Linked DNA regions of Homo sapiens. The protein of the gene in region 2 purifies or fractionates together with the protein of the main gene of each other region. This does not show direct contact. Each region holds a gene or a part of one and is shown on either strand. Other genes may lie near its edges.

Evidence for each region.
Region 1: the proteins of SPCS2 (region 2) and MIA3 purify together in Homo sapiens (affinity purification with mass spectrometry; 2 studies listed by BioGRID and IntAct, with this or other methods). This does not show direct contact.

What each region holds. Positions count from the first base shown.
Region 1 is NC_000001.11:222,617,812-222,630,463, forward strand, and holds the start of MIA3 (transport and Golgi organization protein 1 homolog isoform 1 precursor), read left to right. Parts: upstream 1-285; 5' UTR 286-299; coding exon 300-432; intron 433-3,347; coding exon 3,348-3,481; intron 3,482-5,495; exon of another isoform or gene 5,496-5,540; intron 5,541-6,956; coding exon 6,957-7,043; intron 7,044-9,763; coding exon 9,764-12,578; intron 12,579-12,652.
Region 2 is NC_000011.10:74,950,814-74,963,465, forward strand, and holds part of SPCS2 (signal peptidase complex subunit 2), read left to right. Parts: intron 1-12,652. UniProt on the Homo sapiens protein: Component of the signal peptidase complex (SPC) which catalyzes the cleavage of N-terminal signal sequences from nascent proteins as they are translocated into the lumen of the endoplasmic reticulum.

The DNA.
Region 1 (12,652 bases), on a different chromosome or scaffold from region 2:
AAACTGCTCAGACCTTCGCGGGCGCCGCCCCTCTGCGCTTGTCTTCCCACATGCCCCCGGCGCTCCGCCTGGTCCCTGCCCGCGTCCCTGCCCCCGTCCCTGCCCCCGTCCCTGCCCCCGTCCCCGCCCCGTCCCCGCCCCCGCCCCCGCCCCCGTCCCCGCCCCCGTCCCCGCCCCGTCCCCGCCCCAGCCCCCGCCCCAGCCCCCCCGTCCCCGCCCCGTCCCCGCCCCCGTCCCGCCCCTCTGCGCCCGCCCCGGCCTCCTCCTCCGCGTCACCGGCTCCCCGAGGTGACCACAACATGGCTGCGGCGCCTGGGCTGCTCGTCTGGCTGCTCGTGCTCCGGCTGCCCTGGCGGGTGCCGGGCCAGCTGGACCCCAGCACTGGCCGGCGGTTCTCGGAGCACAAACTCTGCGCGGACGACGAATGCAGCAGTGAGTGCGCTGGAGGGGCGGCTGGCCTCGGGGCGGCTGGCCTTGGGGTCTCCGCCGGCCCCGGGGGTCTCCGCGGCGGCGCCGCCTGGGCTGTGCGGGGACGGGAGTTCCGCAGCCCCTGGCCGGCCCGGGGGTCGCAGGCGGGATGGGCTGAACGCGGGGGTGGGCGCGCTCCGGGTCCCTGTGTCTGCCTTCTCCCGCTCTGCCTGCGCCCGGCCCCTCGGGCCTGACCATGGGGGCTGCACCTCCCACTTGTTGCCAGCGTTTTATTTTTCCTCTGCTGAGGCGGGGGGTTGCTTGCGGTGGTCCCCGGCTTCCCCAATAGTGGCTCACAGCGTCCCCTTCCCACCCCCCCAATCCGCCTGGGCTCGGAGGGTAGATGTGGTTGCGCGCCGCGCGTCTGGGCTCCCCACGCCGCAACCAAAGCTTTCCTGCCCGCGCTGCGGGGACCTCGGTGGGTGCATCACCCCGGCAGATGCGCTAAGGGCTCGGTGGGCGTTTTCCCAGTGGCAGGTTGATGGTGGGGTTTGTTTGGAAAGGCTCCCTGGCGCTGCTCCTTTGCCCTTCTGCTTTATTGGGATTTGGGCTTGTACCGCCTTTTGAACAGGAATTGGGAGTTTAGGTTTGGGACGAGTCTGGAGTCCAAGCACTCATTGTATTCCGAGGTCTCTGCCCCGACTTTGATCAATCCTGTCGTTTCTGTGCTTGGAAGCCGCCTTGCAGACTGCTAGGCAGGACTGCAGGAAGACCAAAATCTTTCGCTCTGCAGAGACCGAGGATCTGCACCGGCCACCTGGGACCGGCAGCCTCCTCTTCTGTGCGCAGGAAGCGGAATTGCTCTCCAGTCTGGGATTGGAGGTGGGCGGTGGAGAGGGCACAGATCTTCAGGCTCAGATGAAGAAGGTTATTACAGGAATGACAGTAAATACTCCAAGGGTCTCATAAGCCAAGCTTGGTTTAGCCTTAGCCGCTTGCGTGTTGAAACCTCTTCCCTCTATGTTCGCCGGACCAGGATCATTTTAGGGCCTCCCAGACCGTCTCAACCTTGTAACTTACTGATAGCCACTGCAGAAACGGTTTTTCATACACTGTTAAGCAATGCCTATAGAAACGTATTCATTTTAAGAAGGCCAAGAACTCTATGGTTTAGCTATTTATATTCAAATTGATGTTATCAAAACCGAATTTCATAATATGAACTGTTTGTATCTCTACAACACTAATCAAGAAAAGAGATCTCTAATGAGTGTGAAGCCATTCCTAGAGATAACCCTGTGGTTGATGTAAATAAACACTACAAAAGCGGTACAACTGCCATGATTTTTCCCTTTAGTTTTCTTGGGTCAAAGCCACGCTGTTACCCATTTGCCGTTGGCAATGGCAAGATAGTTGGTATTCTTTGCTTGCAAGCATTGCCCTGCCTGGGTTCCTCAAAACAGGTTACCTGGAGAATCATCACATCACTGATGCTTCTTCAGTACTGAGGCATGATGTTAGAAGAGCTCACGGTTGTAACATAACTTGAGAAATGGTACGTGTTCAGAGGAAACCAAATACAATAGGCATCAACAGGAGCAAGGTCTAGATGGGTCTGTGTTGTGTTGTAGAAAGTGTTTAGTAATGTGAGTATGTACGGTGCCCTTGTGTGGTTTTCAAATAGCTGTTCCACAGGGTGCATTTTGTTGGCATCTCAAATATTATTATAAATCCTCTATGATCTATTGTAAGGGGGAGCAAAAGAAACATTGCCATTTTCAATTCTGATCTTATTCCCAACCTTAAATTGTCCATCATCTTAAACCTGGCCTCACACTCAATTATATCTGAGCTACAAAGCTGACATGTTGGAAAGTAATCAGAGTTTAGCTTCAAAAAACAAGTAGCCCCTTCCAAATCTATATGCGTGTATAGCCATTTAAAGGCACGTTTTTAATGTATTTTATTGCAAATTGGCTTTTGGAAAAAATCTTATTTCTATTCGTCCTTCTTTGTCTCTGCTATTTAGATGTATTTATTGTCCATTTCATCTTACATGGGAAACTGTGTATGTGGTCAACAAAAATAAAAGTACTGCTTCAGCCAGTTTCTAGATCAAGCGTGATTGAATTACTGACCTATTCTCATAGTTTTGCTTAGTCCCAGCCAAATGAGATGTCGACTTTTGATTTTGTTTATAGAAAAATATACATAAGGGTATTCTTTCCTTTGTTTTGAAACTTAATTTTGGATACAGTCAACATTATTTACTTTCAGAAAATATTGCCTTGTGATGTAATTGAATCTATAGTAGGGTGTGATAGATATCTTTTCCCATTAATTTATCCAGACACTGTACTAAGGGAACAACTTGGCTGCAAATGAAATTGACAGTGTTTACTGCTACATAGTACTGGTTACAGTCACTTGAAGATAGACCCTTTTAGTGGTTAGTTCAAGTTAATTGACCTCTTGGGGGTTCCTGGGTACTCTAGTTCCCTATTACCCGTTCATGTAGCCATGCTTAAGTTAATCATCATCTGGGCTTGAATTTACCCATTTGCAAAAGGAAGCTTTTTATGAATATGAAACAGAAAAGATTGAGGACTAGAAGGTTAGAGAGGGAATCGAGAGTTTCACTTGGGTGAGAAAAGCCATGTGTGGTAGTTGGCACATTGCTTTTTGTTTCTCAGTATTATCCATAGAGAAAAATAGAGAAGGTTTTCCTTTCCCTTGTCTGCTTGCAGAAGGTATGATTTATAGCAGTAAAGCTCAAAGGATTTGAGATACTTTGAGCATATGAAAGAAATTCCAGAGAGTACTGGAAAAACTTGGTTGTTGTTTATAGTGGGATTCTTATATTTCCTGATAAATCAATATGCACTGTGAACACTGAATCCTGATATCTGGCTATTTTTTTTCTCTCTCTTTATATACAGTGTTAATGTACCGCGGTGAGGCTCTTGAAGATTTCACAGGCCCGGATTGTCGTTTTGTGAATTTTAAAAAAGGTGATCCTGTATATGTTTACTATAAACTGGCAAGAGGATGGCCTGAAGTTTGGGCTGGAAGTGTAAGTAAAATATCGACATACTTTATTTGCTTAATTTTTATTGGCTTCTTTAGCACTGTAGAGTTAAATGACTGCATTTTCTTGGGACCTTTGATGGAGTTAACTTGTCCTCTCTGCCTGACTGTGAAAAAAGATGGCCCTGTGTCCCCAGCAGGCCTTGGGTCTGCACAGAGTAGGGGCTCAGCAGAGCCTTCTGAAATAGAACTGATTCTGGCAAGTTCCCCTCAGGGTCAACCTCTAGGATGCTGCATACGTATTAGAGGTTGAAATGGTAAGAGCTGAAAAATACTTCATTGCTTTAAAAAGGAAGTATTCATAGGAATTAGACTTACTCCTGTAAACTATATGTGAGAGAGTGTTTCAGGCATGTAAGCTTAAAGTTGATTTTATGTGTATTTCTTTGTTTATATTATTATTTATGAAAAAGTGGCAGTCTTGGGAACAGTTCCCTAATCATCTGTGCTATTATAAGTCTGTAAAAAAGCAAAATGTTGTTTCTCGTGTGCTTTCTTGTTTGTTTGTTTTTTTTTTTTTGAGGCGGAGTCTTGCTCTGTCGCCCAGGCTGGAGTGCCGTGGCGCGATCTCGGCTCACTGCAAGCTCCGCCTCCCGGGTTCACGCCATTCTCCTGCCTCAGCCTCCCGAGTAGCTGGGGCTGCAGGTGCCTGCCACCACACGGCTAATTTTTTGTATTTTTTTAGTAGAGACGGGGTTTCACTGTGTTAGCTAGGTCTCGATCTCCTGACCTTGTGATCCACCCACCTTGACCTCCCAAAGTGCTGGGATTACAGGCGTGAGCCACCGCAACCAGCCTCTTGTTTGTATTTTTGTTTGCAGCCTTGGGGTCATCCTTGTCCTGCTTTTCAGACACTTGTGTCTGGAGGTTACCCCAGGGGATTGATTCCCAGCTGATTTTATGGGTACCCTGCTATCAGACCTGGCAATCAATGACTGCATCATGCTTTGGTATTTTTAATGAGGAGATTCACTGGGAGTGACCTGATTGAGAGGCCTGTCTTATGAGTTATTGTCCTTTCCTTTTTAGAAAGCGTGATATGTGGACTGTGTCTTTACTTCAAGTAGTAAGGGTCCTCGATATCTTTAGGATTGTCCCAACTTAGAGAAATACCCATCCCGACTATGAAAGTTTTCACTGTCAGTAAAACACCAAACAAACAAAGAGAAAATAAGGCTTGAGAAATCCCCTTGGGGAAAATAGACTGATTTTGTTGGCATTCCAGGTTCCTAGGGAGTAATCTTGGGAAACAACAACTGGTCAGGTTCAGCTCTCCTATTTAGAGAGCATCCCAAGTGACTTGCTCCATACCAAAACAAATCTATTCTATTTCCTTCAAGTCTACCTAATGAGATTTGTTGATAATCTTTACTCTTGGAAATGTTTTTCCATGTACCTAGGCTGCGTTTTTTCATAGAAAAGTTAAGTTTTTTTTTCCACTCCTCATCTTTGAGCATTTGGATGAATGAACTTGACTTAACATTTTCCTCCCACTGCAGTTTTGCTCATTCACGTCTTCATCTCTGGATGTCCTGTCAGTCTTTCTGGGTCACACCTCTCATCCTGCCTTCTTAAGGAACGCTGCCTTCAGCACCCAGCCAGAAGGGATCTTTGCTGCCTGATGATTGTTTAGGTGGCACTTTGTTTGCACTGTTCATGTGGCATTTGCTTTACTGCTTTGTATGGCAGTTAATTTGTGTACTGTCTTAGCTCACGTAAAGTGAAAGACTCTTTAATGGAAAGGCTCATGCCTTATCTGTCTTCTTTTTCAGTATTTCCTGACGAGGCAGTGGCATTTATTTATATTTGTCCTGATATTATCTTATGCAGAATTTGTTCTCTTAAGGCGATACTCTACTTTCCCTCCTACCCCCCGCCCAAATGAAATCAACAGTACCTTGGCAGAAATGATGTATGAAAGCAAAATTAGACATAAAGATTTTTTCTTGTCATGTGAGCCTATGTTTTTTTTTTTGTTTTTTTTTTGGTCAAATCATAAGAAATGAGATGCCACCTGTGGTCCCAACTGACAAAGATTAAGGAAGGTAAATGTATTGTATTTCCCTTTCCCTATATACCTCTACCTCTGATTTGTTTCCTTTTTCCAGGTTCTCCCTTAAAATAGTCTCCCCTCTAATTTGATGAACCTTATTCTTAGGAAATTAAAAACTCTGTCTTCAGCTTTCAAAATGATTCTCATTTGTTTCTTAGTTTTCATTCTGCAGTCTTTTTTGGTTTCTTAGCATTTTAGACTTGATCTGCCAATAACACAGAGTTTAATTGCCCTTATCTAATCTCCATGGCAGTATTTTACTACTAATACTGGCTTTCAGATAGTTTTCAGATCAAGAGCACTCATGAATGGAGATGTTTTATGAATTAGTGATAAGATGGCCTTTTTTTCTTTTTGTGCATTTGATTTACATGCCAGCCTCCTCCTTTAATGATTGGGAGATCTACCTCTCCTTTCAGACAGTAGCTAGTAAAAGACTGTGTGTTTCTCAAGAGGGCACATTTTACTAGTGCTGAAAATGAATGGAATTATTTTCTGTAGAGATTTTGGTTTGCATGAAATGAAAGCTTGGTGGGCAGATTAGTGTGTATTACACTGTAATTTTGTTTTGTCTCCAGTTACCTGTAATATCGTTTTGGAAAATGGCAGTATAGCACATCATATGTGCAAATACAGTTCATCCTTGGGCAACACAGGTTTGAACTGTGTGGGTCCACTTATAATGCAGATTTCTTTCAATAAATATATTGTAAAATTTTGTGGAGGTTTGCATTAATTTGTTAAAAACTCTCAGACCGCATAGCCTAGAAATACTGAAAAAATTAAGAAAAAGGTATGTTATTGACATGTAAACCATATGTAGATCCTAGTGTATTTTATTCTTTACTACCATAAAACATACACAAATCTGTATAAAAAGTTACAGTTTATCAAAACGTACACACACAAACTCAGATCTTACATGGCACCTTTTGCAGTCGAGAGAAATATAAACAAACGTAAAGATAAAATATTAAATCATAATTGCATAAATTAATTGTGCTACCTACTGTACTATAATAGTTCGTAGCCACCTCCTCTTGCTATTCTAGTGAGCTCAAGTATTGTGAGTATCCACTTAAAATGCCATGCGACGCTAATCATTTCCACGTGAGCAGTTCATCTCTCCAGTAAATTGTACAGTGAGTAAAAAGTGATCTCTTGTGGTTCTCATGTATTTTTTGTGTTTAGTGCAATACTGTAAACCTTGAATAACACTCTGGGACCCATACAAAGTGTCACTAGTGATGTTGGAAGTGGTCTCAAATAGCGGAGAAAAGTAATGACATTACAAGAAAAAGTTGATTGCTTGATATGTGCTGTAGATTGAGGTTTGCAGCTCTATCGTTCATATTTCTCATACAGAATTTGATTGATATGTGTCCCTTTTGCCCATTCTTTTGTGTAGGTTGGACGCACTTTTGGATATTTTCCAAAAGATTTAATCCAGGTAGTTCATGAATATACCAAAGAAGAGCTACAAGTTCCAACAGATGTAAGTTGTGGATTTCTGTCTTGTTCTCAGTTATAAGTTGGCTTATAAGTGACTACCTAGAAAAAAAGAAAAATTTCAAAAGAATTTAAATGAGATTTTATCATAATCTGATAGTTATCTAATATATGGAAATAGATGTTCTTATATAAGGCTATGTACTCTTTTTTTTTTTTGAGTCGGAGTCTCGCTCTGTCACCCAGGCTGGAGTGGAGTGGCGTGATCTCGGCTCACTGCACGCTCTGCTTCCTGGGTTCACGCCATTCTCCTGCCTCAGCCTCCCAAGTAGCTGGGACTATAGGCGCCCACCACCACGCCTGGCTAATTTTTTGTATTTTTAGTAGAGATGGGGTTTCATTGTGTTAGGATGGTCTCGATCTCCTGACCTCATGATCCGCCCGCCTCAGCCTCCCAAAGTGCTGGGATTACATGCGTGAGCCACTGCGCCCGGCCAAGGCCGTGTACTCTTATACAAGGCTTTTCTTTGCTGCTTTATATGTGAAAAATTAAGAGTTCAGTAGTTTTATATTTACTTATTAATGTTAGAAGGCAAAAAATTTCATTTCACAAGCAAAAGGAGAAATTTGAAAACTACTTATTGGATAGCTGTTAGACATTTTAAGGATATAGAAATCAGGTTAAATTAATTAAGCTCTAATTTTATACTGAGCCAGAAATGCAAACTTACAAAGGTTTTCTTATTATTGACTCTGTAGTGATTTAAGCGATTATAGTTATAGATTTGGAAAAGGGAACCAGAGAGTTTCAGGTGAGGTCCAGTCTCATATCTGTAAGGCGCTAACTACACATTCTGTAGAGCATTTATCTATAGTGCACAATGGCTTCGTGACTAGAAGGATTTTGTGTTCTAGAATCTGCATTCCATCTGATTATTATTTTTTTGAGACAGAGTCTCTCTCTGCCGCCCAGGCTGGAGTGCAGTGGTGCGATACCAGCTCACTGCAGCCTCCGCCTCCCAGGTTCAAGCAATTCTCCTGCCTCAGCCTCTGGAGTAGCTGGGATTACAGGCGCCTGCCACCACACCCAGCCAATTTTTTTGTGTTTTTAGTAGGAACGAGGTTTCACCGTGTTGGCCAGGCTGGTCTCAAACTCCTGACCTCAAGTGATCCATCTGCCTTGGCCTTCCAAAGTGCTAGGATTACAGGCTGCCTTTCATATATATATATAAAAAACACCATGCCCAGCCCCCCATCTGATTGTTTTGTGAGTTTTAGAATTTATAGTAATTGATGTCTGCTTTCATTCAAAAGTCTTTGAGTAGCTCTTTGGAGTTGCTGCAGAGCGTGCAAGCTGCTGGGCTAGGGCAGTTCTTAGAAGAGATTGGCAGAGTGAAGTCACAGAGCTATTGCTATGCTTAAAATTTCTCGACGCTCTCAGGGGTTATATAGTCAATCGTATTGCCTGTTTGGCTTCACTCCTGATGAAGAGACTGCCCGGGATTTGAGTGTGAGACAGCAATTCATTGGTCACAGAGACCTGACCTGTATACTAATTGTAGTTCCCACTGCATGATTCCCTTAATATTAAAAAAATTGGCTCAGAAGTGTGCATGATGGAAAGAGGGAAGTCATTCATCTCCAGTACACAGGACAGTTCTCACCAGAAGATTGTGAATGTTTAGTTAGGGGAAGAAAGTTATCTTTGTTGGTTTTTTAACTTTTCCATCATTTTATGGCTCCTTGTATGTCAATTTGCTTACTGGTGGAGGAAGGGAAAAATACAGATTTACTTGACAGTCCTGAAAGCAGATCTTAGTGACTGGCTAGAATCCTTATTTGGAGTTAGGTACCTACCTTACTGAATCTTGTTTTCAAGTTGTTCTTGTGGCAGTATGAAAATGGGGAGCCTCCTTTACACCATTCTTTGTTCTCTTACATTTTTATATCTCATGCACCTGTATCTCAGTAAGTTCCTTCTGAAGCTGATTTCTTTCCCAGTCCAAGGAAAATATGAGCCCCAAATCCATGTAGACTGAGAGCCTGACAGCCAGGTGATTCTGCCTGTTTCTGACTGGGTGAGCAGAGAAGTATGACATAGAGGGCACAATGTAGAGAAGCTGATGGTCTTTCAGCTCCTCCTGGATGGGTTATAAGGTGAATTCCCAGAACATCAGGCATAGATGATGGGAGTTGGGGAACCCAATAAATGACACCTTACTTTTCCCCACCTGTGCTCAAAACAAAATTGAGAGACCCAGGAGTTGGGCAAATAGGAGATCAAAATGACCCCATTATTTACTGATAAAGCTGTTTGGAGTATGCAGAAATAATGGGCTTTCTAACATTGCGGTCTAAACTAAGATGGACTTATCCAGTCACAGACAGAGCTATCCAATAGGGGTCTCCCCAGGTGGGACTGTCCCTGTAAAACGGACAGCATGGAGGAACAGAATATGTGTTTCCTCTCCAGCAGGTCCCAAACAGAAAACAGGATTGGGACTGAGCAAACTCACCAGCCACATGAATCATTCTTCCCCTGGGGAAGAGAGAATGAAGGGAAGCCAGGAGTATTACTCAGATGGGAAAGTGGGTTCCAGCCTCCTATCCACCCACTGCCCAAGAACAGTCAGTGCCCAGTGTTGACGCAAAAGCTCCTCTAGAGCCAAACGTGAATTCGAGATTATCTCAATCATTAACGTGGATAAGACTTTGCTCTGGTGACACTTGGCTATTGACAGACTAATGTTTTTCTTTTTCTTACAGGAGACGGATTTTGTTTGTTTTGATGGAGGAAGAGATGATTTTCATAATTATAATGTAGAAGAACTTTTAGGGTTTTTGGAACTGTACAATTCTGCAGCTACAGATTCTGAGAAAGCTGTAGAAAAAACTTTACAGGATATGGAAAAAAACCCTGAATTATCTAAGGAAAGGGAACCTGAACCTGAACCAGTAGAAGCCAACTCAGAGGAAAGTGATAGTGTATTCTCAGAAAACACTGAGGATCTTCAGGAACAGTTTACAACTCAGAAGCACCACTCCCATGCAAACAGCCAAGCAAATCATGCTCAGGGAGAGCAGGCTTCATTTGAATCTTTTGAAGAAATGCTGCAAGATAAACTAAAAGTGCCAGAAAGTGAAAACAACAAAACCAGCAATAGTTCTCAGGTCTCAAATGAACAGGATAAGATTGATGCCTATAAACTTTTGAAAAAAGAAATGACTCTAGACTTGAAAACCAAATTTGGCTCAACAGCTGATGCACTTGTATCTGATGATGAGACAACCAGACTCGTTACTTCATTAGAAGATGATTTTGATGAGGAATTGGATACTGAGTATTATGCAGTTGGAAAGGAAGATGAGGAGAACCAAGAAGACTTTGATGAGTTGCCATTACTTACCTTTACAGATGGGGAAGATATGAAAACTCCAGCAAAGTCTGGCGTTGAGAAATATCCAACAGATAAAGAGCAGAATTCAAATGAAGAGGACAAGGTTCAGCTAACTGTGCCCCCTGGCATCAAAAATGATGATAAAAATATACTAACAACCTGGGGGGACACTATCTTCTCTATTGTCACAGGAGGTGAAGAAACAAGAGATACGATGGATTTAGAGAGCTCTAGTTCAGAGGAAGAAAAAGAAGATGATGATGATGCATTAGTCCCAGATAGCAAACAGGGGAAACCACAGTCAGCAACAGATTATAGTGACCCTGACAATGTAGATGATGGTCTTTTTATTGTAGACATTCCTAAAACAAATAATGACAAAGAAGTAAACGCAGAACATCACATTAAAGGAAAAGGGAGGGGAGTTCAGGAATCCAAGAGGGGCCTGGTACAAGATAAGACAGAATTAGAGGATGAAAATCAAGAAGGCATGACTGTGCACAGTTCTGTTCACAGCAATAACCTCAACTCTATGCCAGCTGCTGAAAAGGGTAAAGACACATTAAAATCAGCTTATGATGATACAGAAAATGACCTAAAAGGAGCAGCTATTCATATCTCAAAAGGAATGCTCCACGAAGAAAAGCCTGGAGAGCAGATTTTGGAAGGTGGCTCAGAGAGTGAATCTGCACAGAAAGCTGCAGGGAATCAAATGAATGACAGAAAGATTCAACAGGAATCCCTGGGTAGTGCACCACTCATGGGAGATGACCACCCTAACGCATCCAGAGACAGTGTGGAGGGAGACGCTTTGGTAAATGGGGCCAAACTGCACACGCTTTCAGTGGAGCATCAACGTGAGGAATTGAAAGAGGAATTAGTTCTTAAAACTCAAAACCAACCTAGATTCTCCTCTCCAGATGAGATTGATTTGCCCAGAGAACTGGAAGACGAGGTTCCCATTCTGGGAAGAAATCTTCCCTGGCAACAAGAAAGAGATGTGGCTGCCACAGCCAGTAAGCAAATGAGTGAGAAGATAAGGCTCTCTGAGGGAGAAGCCAAAGAGGACTCCTTGGATGAAGAGTTTTTTCATCACAAGGCAATGCAGGGCACAGAGGTAGGACAGACAGACCAAACTGACAGCACAGGAGGACCAGCTTTCCTTTCTAAAGTAGAAGAGGATGATTATCCCTCTGAAGAACTACTAGAGGATGAAAACGCTATAAATGCAAAACGGTCTAAAGAAAAAAACCCTGGGAATCAGGGCAGGCAGTTTGATGTTAATCTGCAAGTCCCTGACAGAGCAGTTTTAGGGACCATTCATCCAGATCCAGAAATTGAAGAAAGCAAGCAAGAAACTAGTATGATTTTGGATAGCGAAAAAACAAGTGAGACTGCTGCCAAAGGGGTCAACACAGGAGGCAGGGAACCAAATACAATGGTGGAAAAAGAACGCCCTCTGGCAGATAAGAAAGCACAGAGACCATTTGAACGAAGTGACTTTTCTGACAGCATAAAAATTCAGACTCCAGAATTAGGTGAAGTGTTTCAGAATAAAGATTCTGATTATCTGAAGAACGACAACCCTGAGGAACATCTGAAGACCTCAGGGCTTGCAGGGGAGCCTGAGGGAGAACTCTCAAAAGAGGACCATGAGAACACAGAGAAGTACATGGGCACAGAAAGCCAGGGGTCTGCTGCTGCAGAACCTGAAGATGACTCGTTCCACTGGACTCCACATACAAGTGTAGAGCCAGGGCATAGTGACAAGAGGGAGGACTTACTTATCATAAGCAGCTTCTTTAAAGAACAACAGTCTTTGCAGCGGTTCCAGAAGTACTTTAATGTCCATGAGCTGGAAGCCTTGCTACAAGAAATGTCATCAAAACTGAAGTCAGCGCAGCAGGAGAGCCTGCCCTATAATATGGAAAAAGTCCTAGATAAGGTCTTCCGTGCTTCTGAGTCACAAATTCTGAGCATAGCAGAAAAAATGCTTGATACTCGTGTGGCTGAAAATAGAGATCTGGGAATGAACGAAAATAACATATTTGAAGAGGCTGCAGTGCTTGATGACATTCAAGACCTCATCTATTTTGTCAGGTACAAGCACTCCACAGCAGAGGAGACAGCCACACTGGTGATGGCACCACCTCTAGAGGAAGGCTTGGGTGGAGCAATGGAAGGTGAGATGCCTATGGCCTTGTAGAACAGGGCTGGAGAAGCAGGTGGGTGGGTCGCTGAGGTGCCTCCTATCTTG
Region 2 (12,652 bases):
GGGATTACAGGCATAAGTCACCATGCACCTGGCCTCACACTCAAACCTTAAGATACAGAAACATATTCTGGAGGTTGGGATGGTAAATTGCTTCAAGACATGTGAGAGTATGGGGAATTGATGGTCATTTGTGTACACAAATCCTTCCCTCTTGCTAGGTAAGCACCTCATAGCCTGTGCTTACCTGCCCCACTAACTGCTCTTGCTCTTCCTTGCACTTGGATCATCATCAGCAAACATTAAGTATGGGCATTCTGCTAAGGCAGTATAGAATACTATTATTATGGAATAGTGTATATGGCACCATTGTGTTATTGAAAGAACCCGGATGTGGGGATCATAAGATTTCAGCTTTGAAGTATTTCTGCTACTTGCTAACAGTATGAAGATTGGCAAGTCACTTAACCTTTCTTCATTTGGAATTTTGGAATCTCTGGCACCTAGATCACAGGGTTTTGGGAAGAACCAAGTAAGACAGTACACATTAATGATCTCCATTACCTGTAGTGTCCAGTACAGATGTGTGATGGTGGAGGAGTAAATCAAGAATCCTACTGTCAGAGAGCACTCAGAATAGCCAAATATAGGAGATGGGGTAATTGAATCTATTTAAGGAAGTATATGGTATATTCGCTCAAGTGTGTACTTGTTACGGAAGTTCAAATGAGAGAAATAGAGTGAACCCTGCGAGCTTATTGATAAGAGTAAGAGCCTCGGCCGGGCGCAGTGGCTCACACCTGTAAACCCAGCACTTTGAGAGGCCAAGGCAGGCGGATCACCTGAGGTCGGAAGTTCAAGACCAGCCAGACCAAGATGGAGAAACCCCATCTCTACTAAAAATACAAAATTAGCGAAGTGTGGTGGTGCATGCCTGTAATCCCACCTACTCGGGAGGCTGAGGCAGGAGAATCGCTTGAACCCGGGAGGTGGAGGTTGCAGTGAGCCGAGATCACGCCATTGCAGTCCAGCCTGGGCAACAAGAGGGAAACTCTGTCTCAAAAAAAAAAAAAAAAAAAGAGTAAGAGCCTGAAGGAAAGGCCTCATTCCTGAAAGTGGAACTGGCACCTTATTTGGGGGGAGAAAAGAAAGACATGCCAGGTAAAAAAGTCTCCTTGAGTAAAGTTACACAGATGTGATGGTGTTTTATGTTTCTCAGGTATTGAGTTGACTAGAAGGCTCTCTAAAGGAACTGTAGTGACAAGTAGATAGCATCTGATTAGGGAGGCCGTGGATTGCTTGAAGTAGAGGAAAGCTGTTGAAGGGTTTTGAGACTGTGTAAAGTGGTTTTTAGGAAAACTATTCAGATGGTTTGGAGAGACAGAAATTAGAAGACTTCTTAATAAGGCCGTATACACAGTAGTGTATAATATATAATAAAAAGAGACAAATTTGAGTTCTAGTGCCGCATGTTATTAGGTTGGTGCAAAAGTAATTGCTGTTTTTGCCATTGAAAGTAATGGCAAAAACCACGATAACTTTTGCACCTACCTAATAAAAGCCACATGACCTTGGATAAGTTGTGTGATATTACTGAATTTAAATTTCCTTATGTAAATATTGTGGACATTCATACATATTATAGGCTTGTTGTAAGGATCAAATTGTATAGTGCTGGTAAATGTTCTTTGGGTTTTTTAGTTTGGTTTCCTCTGCCCTTTTTATTTTATTTTTATTTTTATTTTTGGTAGAGACAAGGTCTCACTGTGTTGCCCAGACTAATCGTGAACTCCTGGCCTCAAGTGATCTGCCCACCTCAGCCTCCCAAAGTACTGGAATTACAGGCATGAGCCACCGCACCCAGCTCTGTTCCCTGTCCTTTGGAATCTACTAGAAGTAAATGTTCTTTGTAAAGGGCTGTCTGTGGTAAAAAATAGAATGACAAGGTGATGAGAACCCCAACATGAGTAGCAGAAATAGATAAAAGGTCTCACAAAAGAGTGCTTGGAAGATTTAACCAATAAGTGAGGGACAGAAGAGAATAGTCAAGAGCTGCTTGAGTGCCTTTTCTTGGAAAACTTAGTTTCAGCCTTACATTGAACTGTTCCCTCCCTGAATTCCTCTAGCACTTACACTGCACATGGGAATTAAGCTGTCACTTAATATGACATACTGTCTTGTATTATTTCACCAATTTGTATTTGCCCGTTTTCCTGTGAGTGCTTCTCTGTAGTGATCAACACAAGATAAGTACTTTTAGCATTGAATTTCGCAGAGAAAAAACTTGAGATCTGCCACCTCAGTCTTCAGAAACAGCTTTAGAGGATGGTGCCTCTAATTGTTTGAAGACTGAGGGTACTGTGGGAGAGAACTTGGGGAAAAAAATGTTATTCTCAGTGGAGCAGGATCTGAATGAATAGAGAGGCTTTTGCTGTGTGGGAATGAGAAGCTATTACCTTTAATATAATTTTTTTTTTTTTTTGAGACAGAGTCTCGATTTGTCGCAATCTCCACTCACTGCAACCCCCGCCTCCCAGGTTCAAACAATTCTCCTGCCTCAGTCTCCCGAGTAGCTGGGATTACAGGCATGTGCCTCCATACCCGGCTAATTTTTGTATATTTAGTAGAGACAGGGTTTCACCATGTTGGCCAGGCTGGTCTCAAACTCCTGACCTCAGGTGATCCAACGGCCTCGGCCTCCCAAAGTGCGGGGTTTACAAGCGTGCGCCACCACACCCAGCCTAATATAATTTATTTAATTTGATGTGTCTTGATTTGGGCGGGGAGGGTTTTTATTTTATTTCTGCAGCTGTAGTTTCACTTGCCATAAAGAAGTGTAATAAAGAGATGCAAATATGCTCCTAGTTTTCCCTAAGCAGATGTGAATTTCTACTCTTATGAAACTGACTTTAAGAACACAGCAATTCTTGTTTCCTGATCTTAAAAATAAGTATGCAAATATAATCTTTCCGCCTCCATCACAGAATAACTTGACTTAGATCATTGCAGTATGTTATTTTGCCCCAAATACATCAAAGCATTTTCTTCTGCCTGGCAGTTATAAAGAAAAGCTGCTTGCTTAATTTGTTTTGGCTATTAAAGTTGATATGTGGTGTTAAACCATGCTTTCCAGAAGCTATTATCTAGACCCTTTTAGCCTTATACCTGGATTTCTGTCTCCTGGCTGGCCTGTCAGCCTGATCTTAAAGCACAGCTTTAATCTGTTTACATCAGACTCCTTTGAGAATTAGTTAAAATTAACAGATTTTTGGACCTTTTTTTAGGCCTGAATATCTGCATTTTTCTTCACATGTCTCTATTACCTCTGCATTTTAACAGTTACCTCCAGGTTGAGAACTACTGGCTTAAATGATTTTTTAAAGTCTCTTCTGGTTCTGACATTTTAAGGTTTTTGTTTTGTTTTTAAAAGCTATTCTGCTTAATAGTGGTTTCTTTAAAATGTTTATAATGAAGAGATCCTGAAACTCATATGATACTTCAGCCTCATTTTGTAGACAAGGACACAAGCAAAGCAACTTGCCCAAGACCACACAGTGAATTAGTAACACTTACAGAACCTGGCTCCCCCAGTGCTTAATCCAGTGCTCTTTCTTTACTCAGCACATTGCTTCCCATACCAGAGTGTGCCTTGTGCTATCTAATGTGCTAGCTAACGTAGTAGTGGGATGAGCATCTGTTGTGAGGTGGAAGACCTAGGCTGTGGCCTTGGCTTTGTCACCCACCAACCATATGTCCTTAGGTATCTCCTCTTTTACTCTACTGGAAGATATCTTAGCTTGTCAGACTTCCAGGTGATATGCTTGTGCCCTGTTACCTAGCTCTGACAAAGAAGATGAACGGTTTTATAACATTACTATAATTGTGTGTGTGTGTTTAATGAAACAAGGTGCTGGCCTTTTAATACTGTTGCAAACTGATCTTTATTAGCGTCTCAAAACTCATTATTTTTTATTTCCTCAAAATAAAAAGTATGTGTGTGTCAAAGGCCACTATCAAGAAAGTGAAAAAAGACAATCTACAGAATGAGAGAAAACATTTTCAAATCATATATCTGATAAGGGTCTAGCATCTAGACTATATAAAGAATTTTACAACTCAGTAATAAAAAGACAGCAACCTAGTTTTTAAAAGGGCAAAAGATGTAAATAGACATTTCTCCATAGAAGACGTACGAATGGCCCATAGCACATGGAAAGATGCGCAACATCATCAGTCATTAGAGAAATGCAAAGTAAAACCACAATGAGAAACCACTTCACGTCCACTAAGATTGCTATAATAAAGGGGGAAAAAAAAGGAAAATAACCTGTTTTGGTGAGAATATGGAGAAATCAGAATCTTCATATATCGCTAACAGGGATGTAAAATGTGGTGGCACTCTTGGAAACAGTTTGACAGTTCCTCAGAAAATTCAACGTAAAGTTAACCATATGACCCAACAATTCCACTCCTAGGTGTATACCCAAGAGAACTGAAAATGTGTGTCCACAGGAAAACTTGGCACACAAATGTTCATAACACAGTTATCATAATGGCCTAAAGGTAGAAACAGTCTGTCAGCTGATGAATGGATAAATGCAATGTGATATATCTATACAATGGAATATAATTTGACCGTTAGAATAAAGTATTGATACATACTACAATATGGATGAATCCTGAAAATGCGCTAAGTGAAAGAAACCGATCACAAAAGGCCATATATAGTATGACTGCATTTGTATATCCATAGAGACAGAAAGTAGATTGTTGGCTGCCCGGGGATAGGGGACAGGAATAAGATGTGACTGCTAATGGGTATGGAGTTTCTTTTTGAGGGTATGCATATATTCTAGAATTAGATAGTGGTGATGGTTGCATAACCTTGTGAGTATACTAAAAACCACTGAATTGGCATTATTTTTAAATAGTGAATTTTATAGTGTGTGAACTATATCGCAATTTTAGAAACTTATTTTTGTCTTTCCTGGAGTAACCCTTAAAGTTTCAAATTATTATTTCTTTAAACTATATGTCATGTAACACAGTGGTATCACAGACACTGATTACTTTAATACTATTACTTTAATTACTAATTAAAATATATATATATATATATATATATATATATATATATCTGCCTGCCTAGGTACCTTTTTCAGCTGTTGCTAGCACCATTTCTCTGCTCTGATCTCCATCTTATCAAATTTCAATAGTAGTTTTTTATATTACTTAGCCTTTCAGTAGCATTTGACTTATTGATCACTTCTTTTTTCTTGAAATACTTTCTTTACTTGGCTTCTAGGACACCACTTGCCCCCAGCTTTCCTCCTACGTCAACTAGTCTTTGTTGTCTTCATTGTTCTTTGGTCTTCTTCCTGACCTGTGTAAATATTGCCAGTCCCTGAGCTTATGAGCTTATTACCCCTGGCCCTCTCCTCTGTCTACCCTCATCCCAAGGTGATACCCAATGTCATGACTTAAATAACATGTAGAAGTTGCTGACTTCTACATTTATATTCTCAACCTGGACCTTTCCTATAAGTCCCAGACTTTTCTGTCCAACCGCCTACTTGTCATCTCCACTTAAATGTCTAAAACATGTATCAGGCATCAATAGCCAGAGCCAATCTCTTGATTTCCGCTTACCCCTCAAAGTGCTTCTCTCCCAGTCTTCTTCATTTCAGGTAGATACCTCCATTCATCTAATTTATTCAAACAAAAACCTGAGAGTTACCCTTGATTCTTCTCTTTGCTTTGTACTCCACAGCCATCTCATTGTCGTATTTTCCTGGCTGTACATCCAGAATCTGACCACTCCTACCTAGAGAGCTGTAGTAGCCCTTTCAACTGGTCTTCCAGCTTCCGTGCTTGGCTCCGTTACATTTTGTTCTCCACACAGCAGCCAGACTGATGTTTTAAAACATAGATCACTCACTCTCTTGCTGAATCTCTCCAGTAACTTCCCATCTCAGTTAGCTAAACTCCAAATCCCTAATTGTGGCCTATTTTATAGCCCCTGCATGTTCTTGATCCTGCTTGTTTCTGTCATCCTCATCTGTCAGTTTCTGCTTGAGTCATTATACTCTGGAAACCCTGGCTTTTCTGCTGTTCCTCAAACACGTTAAGCTTGGGGGATTTTGGTGTACTGTTTTCACTGGGACACTCCAGATTTTCTCATGGGTTACTCCTTTATTCAACTCTGCTCAGATGTTAACTATTTTCCCTCACTATTTTTTAGTCTTTTTAAAAACTCTATTGCATTTTTCTGTATAATCTTTTTTAGAGCCTGGAATTATATGCGTATTTGTTTACTTTTTATCTTCCATACAAGAAGAAGCTCTTTGAGTGCAGAATTTGTCTTGTTTATGACTATATCCCTAGTGGCTAGAACAGTGCTTGGCACATAGCAAGCAGCCATTCAATATTAATTTAAAGAAAATAAAGAGTGTAATTGCCATAAAGGTTGTGTTTAAAAATATTATTTTTTTCTTTTAAAAGAATGTCCAACACTGGAATGAATTGCTATTGAGAGGCTTGGCAGTTTCCTTAAAAAGAAAAAGAAACCCAGAAAAGTCATATAACAGTTAATATTTTTCCAGGCAGTAGGAGATGGATTTCAGATGAAACGGCTGTATGGTCCTCTCCCTGAATTTGCACTCAGCTGCATTTTTCAGAACTGATTGCATGTAATTCTTAAATGGAGCACGTGATCTGCCACCTTTCTAGAATAAGGACTCATCGCACATCTGTATCAATGTAGTACATTCCTAGCCAGTCTTCGTGCCTTAATTCAGGTCTTCCTTGGCAGCATCCCTCTCTCTTCCAACCCTCCCCAGTCAGCTTTGCTGCAGATTGATATCCCTGAGGAAATAGGTAACATTTTATCCAAAATCTTTTTTGCAGATCCTTGAACTTGTAGTGTGCCCTTGCCCCTCTATGTCTACTTCTTACCATTTAGCACTTAGCATAGTTTATAATTCATTGTAAGTATAGGATTTTCCTTAACTAAATTGTAAAGACCATTTTTTTTGTATATCTGATTTCTTGTCTACCCATTGCAAAGGTAAGAAATTCATACTGGATGATTATGCCAACAATTCAGTCAGACTTTAGAAGATGTTAGTTGCTAGTAGTGAAAGGATTGTTGACTACATTTCAGTTTGCTGGTAGAAAAAAATACTTCGTTGTTGGAGCATTACTGATTAATATGCTGAATCAAGTTGTTTTAACTTTAAGCTCTTTTCAGCCTTAGATCTCACACTTACTGGGTTCAGTGGTGGGATGTTTAAGTCATGGATCCAGTGATCTGGCCCTCAAAGAGCTTCAGTCATGTAGGCTTCTCTATTCATGGGCTGGGTTGATGTAGAAGCAGCCCCGTCACTGCTAAATGCAGTTTGTGGTGGAGTAGAGAAGGCAGTGTAAAACCTAAGAATCAGTTTCTCTGGGGTTGTCACTAATGTGTGTGCTCATAATTTAATTAACACATGGTAATTTCCTAACTTCTAACTCCAGTGATGAATGCAGTCAGTAATAAGCACTGTTAAGCTAGTAATTTTCTTTGCAGTGTATCTTGGCCATTTTTATAAAAAATAGATTGAAATTGAAGATTCAGTGTGTTGCTAAGAGCATAATCTCTTTGAGATACCATGTTTTTGCTGAATTGGGATCTAAATTAGATGACAGTGCACATTCTTAAGATAGACATCATTTTCTTCCCAAACTGAACATTTTCCTTTCTTGCTAAATATGTGTGTGTGGGGGGGATATAGGCACTATATATTTCCAACTGAAATTGTAATCTCAGCTTCTGAGTTTGCCATCAGTTTTTATTATCTCCTTATTTTAGTTTAGAACTCCACATATACAAATGGGTATTTATCCTTTTTCCTCCTGTATTCTTCTTCTTGGAAAATGACATGATGGCTCCAACAAGTCATCCAAGCCCTAATTCTAGTAGGTGGTCATCTCTGTCTCTTCTCTTTCATGTTCCTTATAACTAGTCTGTTACTAAGTCCTGCCAATTCTACCTCAGAATACTCCCTTTCAGTCCCCCTACTGCTGCTCTGTTGAGCATTGAGGCTCTGCACTTACATCAGGCCCCATCTGCATCTCTATGTCCAGTGTTACTCCCCTCCAGATCATCTGCCAGGTTGCCACTAAAATGACTTAAAAAAAAAACGTAAATTTGATTGTTATTCCCATGCTTAAAATACTCTCCATTGCCTGCTTCAGAATAAAGTTCAAGTTCTTTAGCCTAATAACTAGGAAATGGTTTCTCTCGGATGCCTCATCTCCTACTACTTTCCCCCTTTGCAGCTTCTGTCTACTTTCTAAACTGGGATAAAGGAGAGAAAAAGTTTATTTTTCTTAAAGCCATGCTCAGTTCTGTCTAAATCAGAACAGGGTCACCATTGACACCACTCTCACCCTTGGTAATTCTTCATCTCTCCAGTGTGAATTGAGGAATCCTTTGAGTCTTATTATCAAGCCAGGGAACTTTATGAAGCAATCCACTCAGGTCTTTTATATCACTGCATAACTTCTGTTTTCACTGTGATTAAAATAAGATAATTGAAGGTGTTCATGTGTCATACTCAAAACAATTTTGTTTTGCTGGACATATCCTAATGACCAAGGATTTTGTCCTTTTGTTTTTTGAGATGGATTCTCACTCTATTGTCCAGGCTGGAGTGCAGTGGCACAATCACGGCTCACTGCAGCCTATACCTCCTGAGCTCAAGCCATCTTCCTGCCTCTGTCTCCCAAGTAGCTGGGACTTTAGGTGGGCACCACCACACCTGGCTAATTTTTTAAATTACATTTTTTTGTAGATACGGAGGAGTCTTGCTATGTTGCCCAGGCTGATCTCAGACTCCTGAACTCAAGCGATCCTTCCACCTTGGCCTCCCAAAGTGCTGAAGTTATAAACATGTTGCCACTGTGCCTGGCTTATTTTGTCTCTTTTTTTGATCCCACCCTATCCCTTTGAGTGTGGTGAGATGCATGGGAACAGAAGGCTGTATTCCCTCAAATGAGTTAATTTGGAAAATGCCTTCCTGTACTGACTACATATCCTTCAGACCTGAGTTGTGTTTAATATCCTTCCTAAGCACTTATGGAGTTCCTGATGCCATACCTTCAGTGAAGTGTCTTTGTAGAATTTTTTATTATTCAAATGTGCAGTGGAGAAACGTAACTGAAATGATTCTTCATAATGTTCTATTAAAGCTATCAAATGCCTGTTTTCTTTGAACTGGTTAGCCAGCCAGCTCTGGCATCAGGTGTGTTAGTCTGACAAAAGTTGTCTTTATCTTGGCCGGGTGTGGTGGCACTTTGGGAGGCTGAGGTACGTGGATCACTTGAGGCCAGGAGTTCGAGACTAGCCTGGCCAACATGGTGAAACCCCATCTCTATTAAAAAATACAAAAATTAGCTGACTGTGATGACACTTGTCTGTAATCCCAGCTACTCGGGAGGCTGAGGCATGAGAATTGCTTGAACCCAGGAGGCGGAGGTTACAGTGAGCTGAGATCGCGCCACTGCGCTCAGCCTGGGTGACAGAGTAAGACTCTGTCTCAAAAAAAAGTTGTCTTTATCTCTTCAGTGGGTGGTGTAGGGGAGTAATTTCTTTAAGATAGTACTTTTTGAGCTCTGTTTTCAGCCAAATTGCAGTTGGTTTTACATTGGGGGGGGAGGTTCAACATTTTTGATACCCTGTGAGTTTTGTGGTCCTATTCAAGATTAACATCTTTTTTTTTTTTTTAGGTTTTTAAAATGTTATTACTAGAGCTTGTTAGGAATCAAGATACAATGTATAGCTGTCACTTCAGGGATCTCTTTGTTTCCTGTTCTTTGTGTTTTTGATGGCTAATAATTCCTTTCCTTGCACTTCATGGGAAAGCAGTGTAGAATAATGAGAGAGCATGGGTTTTGAGTCCTGGCTTTACCACTTTCTGCCTTTCACCTTTGGCAGGTTTTTTAAACCCTTAGTGTTATCTGTAAAAGGAGGATTTTAACTGTTCTTACCTTGTAGAGTTATTGTGGAAATTAAGTGAGATAGTGTATATAAAATACTTAGCACATCCGTAGCACATGTTAGGCATTCAGGAAATGGTAGCTATGATTATACCTTCTGTCTGCCCTCCATCCCTTAAAGAAATTCTGTGAATAAGAACCAAGTGAGATCATTTTGACCATGTTTACATTTGCTAAATTTAAACTGGAGAGTAACATTTTAGAGATCTTTTTCTTCCCTTTTTTTCTTTATAAGGATTTAGACATTAAAAAAAAAAAAAAGCTATTGAGAGTATATTGTGTTCCAGGCTCTGAGAATACAAAAGTGTATAGTCCCTGTGACCCAGTGAGGGAGACAATACATACAGTCAGGTAACCATGATGCAGTGTATTATATAGTTTTATATCATTAATAGCAACAGCAATAGCTAATTTTTATGAAGTACTTGCTAGGTACCAGGCACTGTGCACTGTGCTATGTTTTATAATTACACTATTTACTTCTCATACCAACCTGTGAAATAGATACTTTCACCATCTTAATTTTACAATTTAGCAAACTAATAAGGCTTTAGAGAGGTTAAATTATTTGCCCAGTGCCTTCCAGTATTAAGTGGAAAAGTGAGGATTAAAATAAAGTAGCCTGACTCCATTCTCCCTTGGATAATAAGGATTCACCTTATTGGGTAAGGAAAAAAAGCATTTGCCTACATACATTTGTATTTAGTCTAAATCCAGTCAGCTTGTTTTTTGTTGTTGTTGTTGTTTGTTTGTTTGTTTGTTTGTTTTTTGAGATGGAGTCTTCCTCTGTTCACCCAGGCTAGAGTGCAATGGCACCATCTCGGCTCACTGCAACCTCTGCCTCCTGGATTCAAGTGATCTCTTGCCTCAGCCTCCCAAGTAGCTGGGATTACTTAGCCTGGCTAAGTTTTGTACTTTTAGTAGAGATGGGGTTTCACAATGTTGGCCAGGCTGGTCTCGGACTCCTAACCTCAAATGATCCATCTGCCTCAGCCTCCCAAAGTGCTGGGATTATAGGTGTGAGCCACTGCACCTGACCAGAACCAATCAGCTTGTGATTTGAAGTACAGTACACCTTTAAGAATAAGGCCACAATCTGCTTTGGGATTGAGTTCAGGGATTAAGGCAAATAAAAATAAGTTTATATCACTGAAGAAGAGACAGTTTTATAATGAGCCATGTATTTGTAATTTAGCCCTAAAGAATTTTGTTGGCCTGTCATTTACTATTTGTATGGCACTTAACATCTTTGAACTCTAGTTTTCTAATCTGAAGGACATTGGTTTCTGGATTGAGGGTCTGCTTAGTGCTGCAATAAAAAGATGAGTGGCAATAGCAGTTTTACAGTGGGTGAAAATTGACCTGTGTAAGGGATATCATCTTGAAATTTTAGATACTGGCAACATAAAGAACTTTTTCTAGATTTCCAGAAGGAAAGGTGTTCAACATAAATCACATCATTTATACAAACAGTTGAGGCACAGTGAGCCATTCTTATCACTGAGGGAATGTATTTATATCAGTGTAGGGATTTGTTTTATCAGCCAGCTTGTCAGATACCAGCCAAGGGCCAACCTTGCAAACAAGCCTTGCTAAAGATGGCAGTCTTGGACCCAGGTTCACTTATTTCTGCACACTGCCCTTCTTTTTAATTTATCCTGTGAGGTCCCACATAAAAGAAACTAATTTTTGCTTTCTCTTTTTATTATTACAAAAGGAAAGCAATTTGCAATTAGTGTTGAGGAAGACAAAATTGAGGCAAAAAAAAAAAAAAGATAGCTTTTAAAATACCCGAATTAGTAGTAGAGAGAACATGAGGAGCAGCATACATTTTAGTTGATGAGCAGTTTTTGAGCATGATGAGAAGTAATAATCAGAAAAAGAAGCACCTAATAGCAACTCCCCTTCTTCCAGATGGTTCTCCATACTGTAGTAGAGACATTACTTGCTTCGAAATGGGCTGTGTTGCCGTAAAGTCAAATTATAACCTTTCTTGTGATTTCATGTAATTCACTGGAAATGTTTCTTTTCCACTTACTGAAGATTGCTTCTAGGTACCAGGCAGTGAAGTTAGAGCTGAGGCTATTTCAATACATTGTAATGGCTGCTTCTGCATTTTATTCTCCCAAATTGGTTAAGACATTATCCTCTGACTTTTAAAGGCAAGTTTCTTTTCTGTGATGCAATGCAGGCAGTGAAGTGTGGCTAGGTGTCTGAGAATATGATTTTCCTGTTTTTGAATGACCCATAATTTTTAAATGACTTTATTCTGACTTTATTTCACAAATAATTCAAATGCTATGGTGGATTTGGCTCTACAAGTTGGTTCTTTTGCATGTCTTCAAAGAGGGATTTACTTGACAGTGTAAATGAGCTATCTAGCTAGAAAACCTGCTAATTTCTTTTTGGTTCAGTTTGTATCTTTAAAATTAGATGTCGTGTTTGATTTGTAGGCTGGCAGTCTATGGCAGTCAATAGTGCAGTATGCTGCCATGAGTAATTTTCTCAAAGAAAAATTTTTGCTTTTACAGGGCACCAAGGGGGAAAAAAAACTTGATTGACTTTTAATCACTTTAAGTATGGCTATTTTTAGCTCATGTTATTTCTTCTAACAAACTTCACAGAACAGGTTTTCTCTTTTGTGTAATAATATATAGAATCACAGTTAAAAAAAAAA